Regions from separate parts of the Homo sapiens genome. Here region 2 is reported to be linked to region 1. The links are microRNA targets in miRTarBase. Many come from high-throughput screens and were not tested one by one. Region 1 holds a microRNA gene; the other region holds the end of a gene's coding sequence.

Region 1 (8,247 bases):
CTGAAGGACTTGTGAAGCCATAGACAAGCACTGTTCAGCAGTTTTCATGGCTCCCTCCTGACACAATGCACCTGGCACCTCCACCTGCTACCCTCCATCAGGGCTGTTTCTCAAATTAGACAGGCGGCTTATCAAGCAGAAGCTTCCAGAGAGTGCCTTACCCACTTAATGCCCTCACATGGGCATTTAGTCACCGGTACTAGGTGAAAGTGGGGAAGAAACTCCTACAGAAAAGAGGAATCACCCAACCTAGCAACATTCCAGAATGTTCCAACATAGATATGGAGGCTCCGAGGCAGAGTGATCTGGTAAATTGAACACGACCTCAGTCTTAGATCCCAGATGTAAGGATAAGTCTCAACCAGTCTCCCCAGCCTTACTGTTTCTGATTAAAACAATTTCAACACTGCTGGGCATGGTGGCTCACACCTGTAATCCCAGCACTTTGGGAGGCCAAGTTGGGGGTCGGGGGGTGGATCATCTGAGGCTGGGAGTTCGAGACCAGCCTGACCAACATGGGGAAACCCCATCTCTACTAAAAATACAAAATTAGCTGGGCGTGGTGGGCGTGGTGCGCATGCCTGTAATCCCAGCTACTCAGGAAGGCTGAGGCAGGCAGGAGAATCGCTTGAACCTGGGAGGCCGAGGTTGTGGTGAGCCGAGATCGTGCCACTGCACTCTAGCCTGGGCAACAACAGCGAAATTCGGTCTCAAAAAAAAAAAAAAAACTTTCAACACCAATGATCCCAGGGTGGGCCAGGGGCAGAGGCAGGGGCAGGGGCAGGCTGGGGAGCACTGGTCCATTCCCGGATGAGGGAGTCTTACTTTCATGGCAGTATGTTCCCGTGAAGCCTTTGTTACAGTCACAGGTGAATTTGCCTCCCGACTGACTCTTGCACTTCCCGTGAGGACCACAGACGTTGGAGGAAATATACCGCACCCCTTCAGGTGTGTCGTTGGAAGCCATGGCCACTGTGCAGCTGTCAATCACTAGAAGATAGGCTTGGGATCAGATCACAGCCATGCACCCACAGATGCGGCATTCCTAAGCCAAGGGCCTGGGCCAAGCCCACTTTCCTGGAGACAGGGACCCTCTGGCTAATGAGACACACCCCAGGGAAGCCAAGATACTGGCAACGTGCCACATCACATTATGACAGGCAAAGTTGAGACTCCAGGCAAAGAGTTTTAAAGCATTTTCTCCCTCCACACAACCAGGAAAACCCACATGCTTGTGGATCCCCTTCATCCTACCTTTGACATCTACCCAATTTGGTAAACACTTGCTAAGGCAAAAGGACCTGCTTTATTTACTTCCTTTTTGATCTTAAGCAAGGCTCAAGGACAATCTTATAGAAGCTTTAAATGTTGTGCTGCCTAATACAGCAGCCACCGGCCACATGTGGCTATTTACATTTAAATGAACTAAAATGAAATAAAATCAGTTTCTAGTTACACTAGTCACAGTCCACATGGCCTGGGGCTCCCATACCTGACCGTGCAGATACAGAACATCCCCCTCTGTCTGCCGTTGCAGGAAGTTCTGTTGACAGTGTTGTTCTCAGGCATTTGCCTCAGCGTTGCACATCAGCCCACCCCAGAACAGGAATGCTAAATGGATTTCACATTCTCTCCCCTGGGCTACTTGTAGACACGGCTCTCCCACTGGCAGGCCGGAATAGATTGTTTCCACGTGTTGCGGCCCGCTACACAGGCAGGATCATTTCACTATAGAGGTCCTCCTCACCAATACATTACTTCTCAAGTGTAACAAGGGGCAGTGGTAGTAAGTGGGGACAAAAGGAGCAAGTCTGGAGACAGCCAGGTCCCGGGAGAAGGGAGGTACCTTCACAGGGGGTCGTGCGGCAGTGGTCTTTCAGGTGTGAGCAGTTCTTGCCCTCATAGTCCTCGGGGCACTTGCAGAAATAGTCACTGGCACGGTTGTAGCACTGGGCACCGTTCTGGCAGGGATTAGGCTCACAATAATCGATGTCCAGCTGCAAATATCAGGAACAGCGAAAAGGGGGAGGGATCAGAGTAAAACAAAGGTGTCACGATAACTTCTCTGGGGCAGCAGGCACTGGAATCTGACAGTTCCTTCGGTTTCTATTAGGAGACACCCTGTAAGATACATCTCTATGCTGTAGGGACTGCCAATGTCCAGTATTTGAAACAACGGGGCAGAGTGGGAGAGGGAGCACAAGAGGGGGTGGAGGGAACCAAAAAGAACACAAAGACGAAGACACTAAGAAGAAAATAATTCGTCAGTATCTCCTTCCACCAGCATTTGTCTAGCAGAGACTCTCTCATCAATAGGATGTTAATAGATGTTAGGAAATTCCAGACACAAGAGCTGAGGGAAAAGTAAAGGGAAGCGGAGGAGGCAGCGGCTCTGCTCTAAAAACTTGGCCATCTGAGGTTTTGCCACCACTCACCTGACAGAGGTTTCCAGAGAAACCAGTGGGACACAGACACTGGAATCTGTTGATTTCATTCTGACAGTGACCCCCATTCAAACAGGGGTTGCTGGCACATTCATCGATGTCTCTCTCACAGTGATCGCCTGCATAGCCAGGTGGACAGATACAGCGATAACCATTAACCAAATCCTAGAAGAGGAGAAGGGGAGAGAGAGACACATGCTTTTTTTCTATGTATTCCACAAACACAGGGCTTCAGCGGTTTAGCATGACTGTTGCGGTTTAGCTGGTTCACTGAAATAGCCAAATGCTAAACCTCTGAAAGTGGTTAGAGGAATTTCTATGTGCATGCCTTCAAAATGACTCCCACGAGGCTGGGGTAACATAAGCCCTAGCGAAACTTCCAAGAGACTCTTTTTTCACCCAAATTTTTAAATCTCACAGGGACAGAGCTCTCCTAGTGTCGCACAAATCTAAAGATTTGTTGTCAATTGTCAAAGTTTTGATTTAAGCAAAGATTTACATACCCGACAGGAGGCGTCATTCTGACACTGGCCAAGGCAGTCATTAATATCTAAAAAATAAATAAGTCATCATTTTAAAGAGGTAATTTACAGTGAAATTGGGCTTAATTGAAAAGCCTTCTCAGCTCAGGATAGATAAGTTTCAAATCAGATTTCCTGTGTGCTTTCCGTGAGATAAGGTTATTACGCTGGGTGGGGACCCTCCCTAATTCTTCCAGAATGAGGGAGTGAAACTTCACATCATTGTTTCAGCCACATTATCAGAATATGGCTGGTTTTCGCAGCTAATGAGCCTGATAAAGTGTATGTTTTCACTGCTGCCCTGACCACTCCCTCTCAAAAAACCATTCCCACTCTAAGGTTTTCCTTCTACTGCTCAAGTCCTAGGACTGGAGCCCCAGTACGGACCAGCAAGTCGGCTACCCAAGTTTCATGAAAATCAAAATGGAAACAAAGTCACTCACTTATGTCACAATTCTGACCCATCCAGCCGGGAAGACAGTCGCAGTAGTAGCTGGCAATGAGATTCTTACAGGATTTGGCGTTTACACAAGGTTTGGCCTCACATTCATTTGCATCTGAAAGGAGATGGGGATGAGCATGAGAAATGAAGTTCAACCCCCATCTCCCCCACCTTGGAAAAAAAAAGAACAGGCCAGAGTTTGTCTGAGACATGAGACATTTTAATAAGCTAGCTAAATAAAAGATACTAGAGGTTCCCTCTATTTTAAGCATCTGATCCCTCTCCCTAGCTATTATCCAATAAGAACCCTAATTGATAACTTTCCAGCTGCTAGTTAACCAGCCCCCAACAAAACAGCAGAAAGCCACCAGGCATTTCTGTGCAAAACCCAGGCAGCCTAGTTGCTGGGATTTAAATGTGGCAAAAAGAATGCAGACAGCTCATTCCTCATGAGATCATCCCCTTTTGGAACCCAGCTGAACACTCCTCGGACAGACGATTGACATGGTTCAAGGAATCCCACGACTTTCCCACAGGGCCTAAAAGAGCTAGTCCATTTGCATTCAAGTTATTTCTCCCAGGCCTGCTAGACTCTTGATAATAAATTACTTCTTAGCATGATGGAGTGTGAACTCACACTGCCGGCCACACGCTCGTCTTCTGTAATGGCTTTGACAATCAAAGCCAACCTTGGTATAAAAATTACAGTCACAGGGATGTTCTTACCTAACTGGCACGTTTTCCCAGTCCACTGTGGGGGGCACACACACTTAAATCCGTTAACCAGGTCCTGGCAGGTGCCCCCGTGGGAACAGTTATTAGGAGAACAGTCATCAATGTCTGGTCAACAAGAAAAGGAGGGGGTTGACAATTTAATTCAATCCATCTGACAATTAGATCCTTTAACATCACCTCTTACATGAGGGGCTGTCATTGAAGAGCCAGACACCTGCTACAAGGAAAGCTACAGCAGGACAAGTGGGACGGTGACGATAAGGCCGAAGCCTTGATTTTAGCTTTAAATCCCCCACTGCCCCAGTTCATGTAATCCCCAACCTAAGCAGTGGGGGAGAAAGACAGCTGGATACTGACGGAGCATCCGCCCAGGAGGAACACAGGACATCTCTATCTGCCTAATCTTTATTTTTAAAGAAAAGTTTCATCATGGCTCAGAAGTAGCTAAGAAGTCAGGAAAAATAGTTCTTTACAGGTGGAAAACCTTATTCCTCTCATTTGCTTACAGAGTTTGCCCAAAATAGCACACCTAGAGGCTGCATTCTCCACTTCTGCTCTGACCAGAGACAACTCCTAACAATTTATGAAGTATTCACTTTTGTGTCTTTATGACAACCTCGGAGATGGGAATTGCTACTGTGCCATTTAAAGAGGGCCCGGGGAGCTTCTGTGGCCTGCTGGAGTTCCGCAAGTGACAGGTGGGGGCCTAGGACCAGCACAGGCAATCTGACCCCAGAAATCCACATCCATAACCACACCTGGGGTGCTGATGACAGCGGTTCTCAGACCTGGCTGCACTGCAGAATTCCAGAAGTTTATCAAAGACCATGGACTCCCCGATTCTGGAGGGAATCTGGGGGACCCAGAGATTTACACTGTAAAGCAGCCCAGGTGATTCTGATATACAGCCCTGTCTCACAGCCAAAGGAACTCTGCAGGCCAGGTTCTTCTCTGGGGCCCCCTGGCCCTATGACAGAATCCAGTAGTAAGTGACAACCTCCCCTGAAGGCAGCCTCTCCATGGCTGCAAGAAGAATAACCACAATTGGAAGGTGGCCAGCTCCAGGAAGCAGATGCAAAGGAACAAGCGATTCCACGAGGACGTTCCTTCCAAGAACAGATACATGCGCTACCTTAGTGGGACAGGATGGGGGTGCTGGGAGACTTCCAAACACACAAGCCACCAGACTGCTTACCAGACTTAGGCCTGCACCCGCCCCTCTCTCACCGAGACATTCACACTGGACAAGCCTAGGTACCTCTCCCCAGCGTGGTATCTTGGCACAAGGATCCTTAGAATGGACACAGGCTGAAAATTGGACTTACTTGTAGAGCATGTGGGGCCGGTCCAGCCTGGGGAACACTCACACTCAAAGCCCAGGGAGGTCTCCTTACAGCTGCCTCTGTTGTGACAGGGATCAGAGAGGCAGGCGTGCTCAGCTGCAAAAACCAGGATGGCAGTCAGAGAGGGATGCCTGCACACCGTTACCTCCCCACACCCCCCTCCAACCGAATCCCACACCACAGCCACTAGTGCAAGCATATTTCAAAAACCAAAAGCAAGCGTGTGATAGAACCCTGCTGTGTCTAGGAAAGAAAGGAAGTCATCTTTCTCGCTGAGCTGTCTCTAACCACATTCCAAGACATCTCAGAGCTGGGGTCATTTCATCTCCCGCTGCCTCCTATACGAATCAGCATCACCCAAAAAACTTTAGAGACTTGAAAGTTACAAAGGCTTATAGAATGGTTGGGATAAGGCCTATCTTTGGAAGCTATTTTCACTTTTTTTTCCTTAAACAAGTCCTTAAGTATATTTTTTAAAAGCTGAGTACAGAAAAATTAGACAAAGGGCTCTCATTCATCTTGGACCACTTACCAATTTCACAGTTGGGTCCTGAATACCCCTCAGGGCAGGAACACTGATATTTGTCAGGGCCTGTGTTGCTACAAGTTCCCCCGTTGAGACACGGCTGATGAGTCCCACAGTAATTGAGATCTGCCAAAAAGATCCTGGAGTCACTAAGAGACGCCTGTGAAGATGGCGAACCCACCATGTTTCTAGCCCCAGTCGTCTTTTAAAAAGAAAAACCAGAAAACCCACACAGCATTCAAGGAGAATTCAGAATAAAAGCCCCTGCCAATAAAATTAGAAACCAAATTAGTGCCATCCCACCCCCAGATCCCACCCTGGGTCTCATCCCTAAGGGCCATACCTTTGTCACAGAGCTGGCCGCCCCAGTTGGTCTCACAGAGGCACTGCCAGGGCTCATTACAGATGCCGTGGACGCATCCCGGGTGTGGGATGCACTTATCACAGTACAGGCCTTGCCAGCCGTACTGGCACCTGGAGACACACAGCACACCTCCAGGTTAGCCTTTTGAACGTTAAGAGACACCTGTACAATTCAAATGGAAGACTGCAAAGTCCAGGCTTTTTCTGTTTTGTTTCTGGGGACAGGAAGGTAGACTCCCAAGGCTCATCAGGGGCTCCGTATAAACAAACATTTTCACAGTTGAGCTGAGGTCCCCTCCCAGCCGACTCCTGACAAAAGGAGGGCTGTTTGGGAAGAGGCCAGCATGGGGATGCCCTTCACAAAGCCACTCTCTTCTCAGGCTCACACGAGTGAGCCAAAGGTGAAGGCATGGAATAAATCAACCCGTGCACCTAGTTGCGACAGACTATAGAGGAAAGGACTCTCTCGGTGACAAGAGAGCTATGCCAAAGTCTCTGCAGACGCTGCACTTGCCACTCTGCTCTTTGTCTGCACAGAAAGTCATGACCCCAGTGCACAGAAATGCAACAAGCCACCAAGTGCAGCAGGAAACTGCCTCACGATGACGCTTTATTTAAAAAAACAAGGAGAGAAAGGGGCACCCTCCCTTGGCCAAAGCCAGAGTAGGCTCTCTAAACCCACTTCTATAGGGAAGGAGAAGGAAATGACAACACTTGGAACCAACTCCATAATTTGTGTCCCATTACTGTGTGCTAATTTATAGTGATTTCTTGCTTTGCCAAGAAAAGAAAAAAAAAAGAAAGCAGTCTGCTTAATTTATCTAGTATTGGCGGAGTTGAGGTTCTTTTATATAAGCACCTTGATTAATCATACTCTTTTGGGGCCAAATAGTGCCTCTGATCCCCAAGCAAAAACAAAAACAAATACAACAACTTTCATCTGGGGTGGGAGAGGGGGCAGCGTCTCAAACCACTCTCCCTTGAATTTTCAAGCCCTCTGAAACTTTAATTGCCTTCTCAAGAGCCAAGCTTTAACAAGGGTGGGGGAAGGCAGGGAGAAACATCAACTAGCCTCCCGGTGGAGCGTGGAGGGTGGAGGGTGGAGGGTGGGGTGCGGGTGGGATGGGCAACATGTTTCCAGAACGGGACCTGGGAAAAGCCACGATCAGCGCCAACCCCCTAAGCTGCTCAGCTGTAACTCTGGAAAACAACCCCCGCCCCCTCTAGCTCCCCAGAAGGAAAGGCTTTCGGTTTCCCAAGAGCGGGAGGCAGGCTAGCAAATCCTTGTCATGGGAAAATTATAGGGATCTAGCTAATAGCTAATCACCCACGGCTGAGAGTCAACTTAACCCCTGAGAATACTGACTAACCACTTCCTAACTTCTGAAACCAAGCTATGCACACCCACATGCAAAGAAATCACTAGAATGTGTGGTTTAAAGTTAGACACTGGATTCTGGTTTATGTAAAATGGAATGTCAACGTGACAAGTGACTAAAGGAGTAAGATAAGAACAAAATTACAATCTAAATAATTTCTCAAAAGCGGACACCCACGTTAGTGGGAGGTAAGGGTGTAGCCATTCTGTCAAGGCTGATATTCTTAGCCTGAAAGATAGTAAGAGGGAACTGATTACGAAATGGCAATATTCTCACCGTCTTCCCTTATTCTCTTCCAAATTCAGGATCACTAGCCCTCTTCAAGTTGCCTCATAAAGGCAAGGAGAGGCAGCTGAGGACCCAACCTCACCTAATTAAAGAGACCTCAATCCCCAAGCATAAAAAAGCAACCACAAGAGGCCATGGATGACTTCAAAAGAAAACAAATAAAAATACTGACCCTAAAAGAGGCACCAACCAAGTTATCCCAGTTT
Region 2 (7,569 bases), not on the chromosome of region 1:
TATTGTAAGGCCTGTGGGAGGGGAAGGGAGTGGTCTGGTCGGGGCGACCCTAACATTTTAGCCTTTTAATCGATGATAGGAAAGGGGACGCCATTTTTCGCCTGGCTACTTCAAGCTGAGAGGGGGCAGTGTTTAGGGGGAAGGCTGGAAGGTAGGGGTTGGTCCTGGTACTGGTTTTGAAATTGCCGGTATTCTTGCAGTAGCGTCATGTCTTTCATGGTTCCGTGGGTGAAAGCTCGGACGCGGTTCCGTAAAAACTGGGTACAGAGACGTAAGAGGCAGGGCCCAAAGACTGGAAGGAGAATGGTTAGGACGGGTCCTAGGAGTGGGAGTAACCAGGAGGCCTAAGAGCTGAGAGACCAAGGGGGCCAAGAGGGCCAGGCAGAGGAGGTGATTTTTCTTTTTTCTGTGAGTGCGGGGGAGGGCTTGGTCTTTTAGTTGTTTGACTGCACCCTGAACCAGGCCTGACTGATTGAAATAGAAGCAGCATTCCTCATCTAGGAAGATCCAGAGACTTCCTTTTTCTGCAGTAAGCAAATCAAGGCCTTTGCGGTTTTGTAGGGTAACTGCTGCTAGGGAGTCTAGTTGGTTTTGGAGGTGGGTAATAGTCTACAATTTTTTTTTTTTCAGGAAAGCCTGTAAGTCTGTAGAGAGTGCCTGGAAATATGATAATGAGGATCCTCTTAACTGGTGTGTAGGAATAGATGGAGAGCGGAGGGTCCCTTGGGAGGAAGTGACAGAGCATATATGACAGTTTGAGGTTATGTTTTTTAATAAGGTAAATAGGTCGGGGGAAGAGAAATATAGGCAAAGGAGAAGGTACGGGGGGTGCACACCAACGTGGAAAGATTGGTGAAGGGATGTTAGAATTTTTTTTTTTTTTTTGGTTTGTTTTTGGTGGAGGATGAGTTTTTGATTATCTAGTTGCTTTCGAAGGAGGTTCCTTGTTGTAGTAGTGAGCCCTTTTTTTAGTGGGGAATTCTGGGGTTGGATTGTAGGGGTAATGAGGAGGAGAGAGCCAGGGGGAGAAGAAAGGGAGAGCTTCTTTGCTGCCTTATCAGCTTTCGTGCTTCTTTTTGAGATTTTATTTGAACCTGTTTGATGTCCTGCTTTGGTTGGAAGGTGTGCAGCCTGAAGTAGCTGGTAAATAAGGGGAGCTGTTAGTGATGAGGGTTCCTTTGGCAGTAAGGAATCCTCTTTTGCCAGATGGCAGCGTGGGAATGAAGGATGTGATAGGCATCTTTGGAGTTTGTATAAATGTTGACTTGTTTGCCTTTGGAAAGGGTTAGGGCTCTGGTGAGAGCTGTAAGTTCTGCTTTTTTGGGGGAGGTTCCTGAAGGTAGGGGCCTGGCTTTAATTACTTGGTCAAGAGAAACAACTGCATATCCAGCAATTCTGGAGGAGCCAGCGGGCCTGGAAGAGGAGCCATCTATGAATAGCTGGTCATTGGGGTTGGCGAGACGCTTGGAGGAAATGTTTGGGAAGTGTGGCTGCTGGTGGTCTAGGATGTCAGTGCAAGAATGAGTAGGAAGGGAAGAGGATATGGGGAGTAAGGATGCTGGGTTGAGGGGAGCACTTTTGGCAAGGCAGAATTTGGGATTTTTGATAAAGAGGGCATGGAGTAATTGAATCTGGGAAGGAGGAGGAGAACTTAATGCTTGGGAGGAGAGGAGATGTAGATTATGAGGACTGTAGATGGTGGTATTTGGGCTGAATGTTAGCATCTTGCTTTCTAGAGCTAAAACTGCTGCTGCTGCTGTACTGTAAGACAGGTTGGCCACCCTTTGACTGTGTTGTTGAGTTGTTCAGAGAGGCAGGCTACAGGAGAAAAGGAAGGAGGATTTTATTTTTGTTGTCTTAAGACACCAAGGGCTATTCTTTGGTTTTTTGGCAGTATAGAGAGTGAAAGGTTGGGAGATATTAGGTAAGGACAGAGCCGGTGCAGTGATAAGAGTGGTTTGGAGTTTGCGGAAGTTGGGGAGTATGTTATGTGAGGAGTTTAGGAGTTTATTGAGGGGGCCTTTGGCTGCTTTATAAAGGGGGTGAGCTAGGGGGGCAAAGTTGGGAATCCATATTTTTAAAAAGCCTGTTAGCCCTAGGAAGGAAAGGATTTAGTTTTTTGAAGAAGGTGGAGATAGACTGTCTATTAAGGCTGCCCATGCCGGGGTCATGGCTCGAGACCTGGGGGAAGGTTGAACTCCTAAGTAGGTCCCGGTAGGGGTGGAAAGCTGTTCTTTAGAGGGGAGACCCTATAGCCTTTATTAGTAAGGAAATTCAGAAGGGTGGCAGTGTGAGTTTGGGAGTTTTTTAGGGAGGGGCTACAGAGAAGGAGGTCATCTAGATATTGAAGAAGGCGGCTGGGGGAAAGATCCAAGGAGGCAAGGTCTTGGGCTAGGGCTTGCCCGAAGAAAAGAAGGCTATCCTGGAAGCCCTGAGGGAGGACAGTCCACGTGAGTTGTTGTGACTGGAGGGTGTTGGGGTCAGTCTGGGTGAAAGCAAAGAGGTTTTGGGAATCGGGGTGTAGGGGAATGGTGAAGAAGGCATCTTTCAGGTCAATTGTGGTGTAGTGGGTGGTGCTGGAGGGGATGAGAGGGAGAAGTGTATAGGGGTTAGGGACTACAGGATGAATAGGGAGGACAGCCTGATTGATAACTCGGAGGTCCTGAACGAGTTGGTATGAGCTGTCAGATTTTTTAATAGGGAGGATGGGGTTGTTATATGGAGTGTTGGTCTAAGACGACTGTGTGAGCAGAGCTTATGATGGGTTGTAAGTCCTTTGGTGTGTTAGGGAAGTGGGGTATTGGGGAATGTTGGGAAATTTAGAGGGGTCTTTTAACTGGATTTTGATGAGGTCCTGGTGAGCAGCTATGGAAGGGGTGATGGTGTCCCACACTACTGGGTTAATGAGGGAGGCGGGTAGCGGGTGCTGGGGAGTGGGGTTCAGGGGCCAGACTAGCAGAGAGGAGCAGGAGGGACTCTGGTTGAGGGGGACAGGAAAACATGATAGAAGCTTTGAATTTGGTTAAAATGTCTTGGCCTAGCATTGGGGTGGGGCAATGAGGCATGATAAGGAAGGAGTGTGAAAAAGCAGTATTAAACAGGGAACAAATAAATAATTCAGTAGCACGTGGACACCAGACCAGTCCATCAACCCCTACAACAGAGACCTGGGAAGGGCAAGTGGGTCCTAAAGATTCAGGTAAAACCAAGTAGGTGGCCCCACTATCAATTAAGAAAGAGACTGGCTTACCTGCCATTAGCAGAGTTACCCTGGGTTCCGATGCAGTGACGGCAGATGGGGCCGGGGGCCCTGGGCTCTGTCAATCTTCAGTGGCCAGGACAAGGAGCTGTGGGAGTGGGAGTGACTCTTCACTCTTCGTTTTGCCAGGGCCTTGAGGAACCGGCCTGTTAGTCTGCTTGTTAAGAGGACAATCAGACTTCCAGTGACCAGTTTGTTGGCAGGCTGGGCAAGGAGTTTTTGGCAATCATGGGTTAGGGCATGCTCGGGCCCAGTGACCTTCTTTGCAGCACTTAAAACAGGGCCCAGGAGGGTCACTGCTATGGGGTCTATTGTGCCCCTGGGCAGCCCGAGTAGGCTGACAAATAGCTGCTGCTAGGAGCTGGTACTTGGCACAATCTCCTTGGGCTTTATCTAATTTATTTTGCTCATCTCTGTTGCTGAAGACCTTAAAGGCCAGGTTAAGGAGGTCTCGTTGAGGGGTTTGAGGGCTGTCTTCTACCTTTTTGAGCTTGCGCCATAAGTCAGAAGCAGACCTTCCTGGGAGGTGGGGTTAACATGGGTGTATTTTTGGAGGGCCTCTGTAAGGTGGGAAAGAAATTTGGTGGGATTTTTGTCGGCCCTTTGGGAGACTTTTTTGAGCTTTTCAAAGTTACAGCCTTATGGGCAGCTTTATTAAGACCTGAGATAAGGCAAGTGATCATGTGGTTATGAGATGCCCGGCTGGGGTCTGTGGGTTGGTACTCCCGGGAGGGTTTTTCCCAGGAAACTGCAGCAGCCCCTATGGGCTTAGTACGGTCTTGTGGATGAAGATCATTGGCATGCCTGAGCTGCAAGCCACTCTTTTCTTTTCTTTTTTTTTTTTTCTGGGAGGAGAGTATAAGAGAGGATAATATAGAGATCATGCCAAGTGAGTCTGTAAGATTGGGTGAGGTATTTGAGCTTTTTGATATAAGTGTCAGGATTGGAGGAAAAGGACCTGAGATGTTTCTTAATTTGCGAAAGGTTAAGAGAGGGAGAAGGGAATGTGGACGCGAACGACTCCTTTAGCCCCAGCCACCTCTCAGAGGGGAAGTAAGGGGGCCGAGTGTTGGGCATGCTGAGTCTGAGAGCGGGTATGAGGTGGAGATGGGGAAGAATCAGAATCAGAAGCTGGGTGGTTGGAGAGAGGAAGAGAACGAAGGCAGGAGCGGGATTGTATGGTGGAGGATTGTGATGATTTGGGGGAGGATTACGGTGCTGTTGGGGAAAAGTTGGCAGGATCAAAGAAGGAAGAATCATTGGGAGGAGCGGTGACGGGGGTGGGGGTCTGAGGATGGGTCAGGTTTGGAGCAGGCGAGGATTTGGAAAGTAGAGCAGGACTGACAGAGGGAGGGATGGCTATGGAGGGCAAACGAAAGCCTGAACATAAGGAATCTCTGACCACTTTCCATTGCGATGGCAGAAGTTGTCTAGGTACCTGAGAATGTTGAAATTTAAAGTGCCGTTTTCAGGCCATTGGGAGCCATTGTTTAGTTTATATTGTGGCCAGGCGGTGTTACAATAAAAGATGAGGTTTTTTTTTGGCTGAATTTCGGAATGGAGGCTAAGGGCATTAAGGTTATGATGGAGGAGGCACCCGAAGCGGGGATGTCTTTGAGGGAGGGGATTGGAAGGCTCCCATAGTGGAATGAGAAAGGGAGGGGTAGAGATGGGAGACTTGGCCGGAGACTAGAATGGTGGGAGAACGCGTCCCTTGTCCCACAGTTCAAGTCGGAGAAGTGCGATAATCCCCAGTTCAGGCATCCTTGATAGGAGATATCGAGGGCCTCCTGGAGGCCAGGAGGAGGAAACCCTTGGCCCAGTGCTGGGTCTTTTAGGAAGGAAAGAGCAGACAAGGGTTCCAGACACAAGGCGAAAGTCTCCTTTACTCAACCCTGAGGAGGCCCTGGTGTTGGATGTGTTCGCCAGCAATGGAAAGTATGTATGAGATCCTTGGGTCTCTAGCAGGTTCTGGAAGGGGGAGTTCAGCCAGGGGAAGGAGGGAGAGAAAGAGAAAGGGAGAAAGGGAGGCCGAACTCTATCACCTTTCCGGGTTTCGGCACCAGAAATGTAAGGTCAGCCAAGAGAAAGGATGAAGAGACCCAAAGTCAGGCAAGCAAGCTTTATTGAGCTGCTTGGCTGCTCCACCACAGTTAGAGGAGGCAGCCCTGCTTACAGACTATAGCAGGTTTTTATAGGGCCAGAACTAGGTCGGGGTGCGGGAGCTGAGTTGGGGGTGCAGGAGAACTGGGTTGGGGTGGGGGAGCTTAGTCGAGGGTGCAGGTGTCTTGTCTGCATCCTGGAGATGTTTTTTGCCAGCTTTGTTATGCGAGGTGAACAGACATGTTAACCGCATCCTGTAACTGTCTGCACAGTTACTGGAGGGATCAGTGAAGGGGGGTTTGTTTTTTGCCCTGGGGTAGCTGTGCAGAGAGCACAAGGGACCGTATTGTAAGTCCTGTGGGAGGGGAAGGGAACGGTCTGATCAGGGTGACCCTAACAGAAGAGTATTATTCTAAACACCTATCTCATAAATCACTTACAAGTATATAAAACAACCACAAAGAGCCTCTCTACCAAGATTTTACTCACGCATCTTACATTTCAGTGTCTTTCACCTTTCACGGACAAGTATATCAGTGATGCACACCTAAGAGAAAAGAATTTCTCATATCTCTGACGCAGCAACAACTGACCATGTGTTTTCACATCAGCACTAGAAATGAAGACACAGCATCTACTGATTTGAGAATAGAATGACATCAATATTCGCTTTTCAAAAATTTAACATTTTTTCAATGCAAAAAAGTATATTTTGAATGTAATTATAACTCTACAAAAACTCAGTCTCATCCTCCTTTTAAACTTAAATATAAATGATCTATTTTAAGTCTAGATGTCTCTGTAGACTCAACACAGGGATTCAGTGTCATTTCTGAACGTGTCCTTGCTTATTTTTCCCATTTAGTGTATTTGCAAAATATCTTTTAGTATGAACTCTAGTGTTTTCTAAGCTATCATTTTTGAACAAATGTTATTCCACATTTATGAGATTTGTTGGGTTTCTCTACAAATTTTCTGAAAGTTTAAGCAACTGATGCAAGTCTTCCATCTAGTATAATTGTAACATTTTTTTCAGAAGAAATACTCTTGTGTGCTCTGGAGACTTATATTTCATGAAAGGTCTTTCAATAGTAATTACATTTATGATAACTTTATTAAGTCTGAACTCTGATGTAAAGTGGGATGCGAGCAGATACTAACGGCTTTGCCTATTTTTATATTTGTTTATTTTTTTCTCAAGTATGAATGCTTTCATGTACAGTCAGGTGTGAGAACTGGGTGAAGGCTTTGCCACACTTTTCACACTTGTAGGGTTTCTCTCCAGTATGAATTCTCTTATGTACAATAAGGTTTGAGGACTGGGTAAAGTTTTTTCCACATTCGTCACATTTGTAGGGTTTCTCTCCAGTATGGGTTTTCTTATGTTTGGTAATGTCTGAGAACCACATGAAGACTCTGCCACATTCTTCACACTTGTAGGGTTTCTCTCCAGTATGAATTCTCTTATGTACAATAAGGTTGGAGGACTGGGTAAAGTTTTTTCCACATTCGTCACATTTGTAGGGCTTCTCTCCAGTATGGGTTTTCTTATGCTTAGTGAGGTCTGATAACTGCTTAAAGATGTTGCCACATTCTTCACACGTGTAGGGTTTTTCTTCAGAATGAGTTCTCTTATGGTTAGAAAGGCTTGAGCAAGTTCTGAAGACCTTCCCACATTCTTCACATTGGTAGGGTTTCTCTCCGGTGTGAATCCTCCTGTGTTCACTGAGGTGTGAGGACTGTGTATAGGCTTTCCCACATTCGTCACATTTGTATGGTTTCTCACCAGTGTGAATTCTCTTATGTTTAGTAAGGTCTGAGAACCACTTGAAGATGCTGTCACATTCCTCACATTTGAAAGGTTTCCCTCCAATCTCATTTCTCTGGTGTTTGGAAGGATTTGGGCTGTGGTTAAAACCTTTGTACCATGTTTCACATTTGGAGAGCTTCTCTCCAGCAAGAATCATCTGTTGATTAGAAAGGCTTGAGCAAGAGATAAAGACACTGCTGCACTCTTCATATTTGCAGGGTTTTTCCTCAGTACCATGCTCATGTTCAGTAAGGTGGGAGCACTGGTTAAATACTTTGCCAAATTCTTCACATCTGTAATGTTCCCCTCCGGCATAAATTCTATTTTTAGTAAGGACTGAGCAAGTTTTAATGACGTTGTTACATTCTTGACACTTGTAAGGTTTCTCTCCAGTGTC

The links. Region 1 holds the annotated microRNA hsa-miR-6870-3p (GCUCAUCCCCAUCUCCUUUCAG, at 3,523-3,544, opposite strand). A microRNA usually pairs through its seed, bases 2 to 8, with sites in the 3' UTR of a target mRNA and lowers its output. Matches are read on the target gene's strand: a 7mer-m8 pairs with bases 2 to 8, a 7mer-A1 pairs with bases 2 to 7 and ends in A, and an 8mer does both.
Region 2: miRTarBase lists ZNF195 as a target of hsa-miR-6870-3p. Seed matches in the 3' UTR shown: 8mer at 6,107-6,114.

The regions. Positions count from the first base shown.
Region 1 is chr20:10,646,114-10,654,360 of GRCh38, forward strand. MIR6870 (microRNA 6870) reads right to left here and starts at 3,582; the gene lies at 3,523-3,582. It overlaps JAG1 (jagged canonical Notch ligand 1), which reads right to left. Exons shown (of 26, transcript NM_000214.3): 6 at 6,355-6,485; 7 at 6,018-6,137; 8 at 5,468-5,581; 9 at 4,134-4,247; 10 at 3,409-3,522; 11 at 2,948-2,994; 12 at 2,436-2,609; 13 at 1,847-1,997; 14 at 826-990. RefSeq lists silencers at 1,554-1,603, 5,068-5,362.
Region 2 is chr11:3,352,560-3,360,128 of GRCh38, forward strand. ZNF195 (zinc finger protein 195) reads right to left here. Exons shown (of 6, transcript NM_001130520.3): 6 at 5,368-7,569. The coding sequence ends at 6,559. Among named protein-coding and RNA genes, the nearest start is that of ZNF195, 23 kb to the right of the region's middle.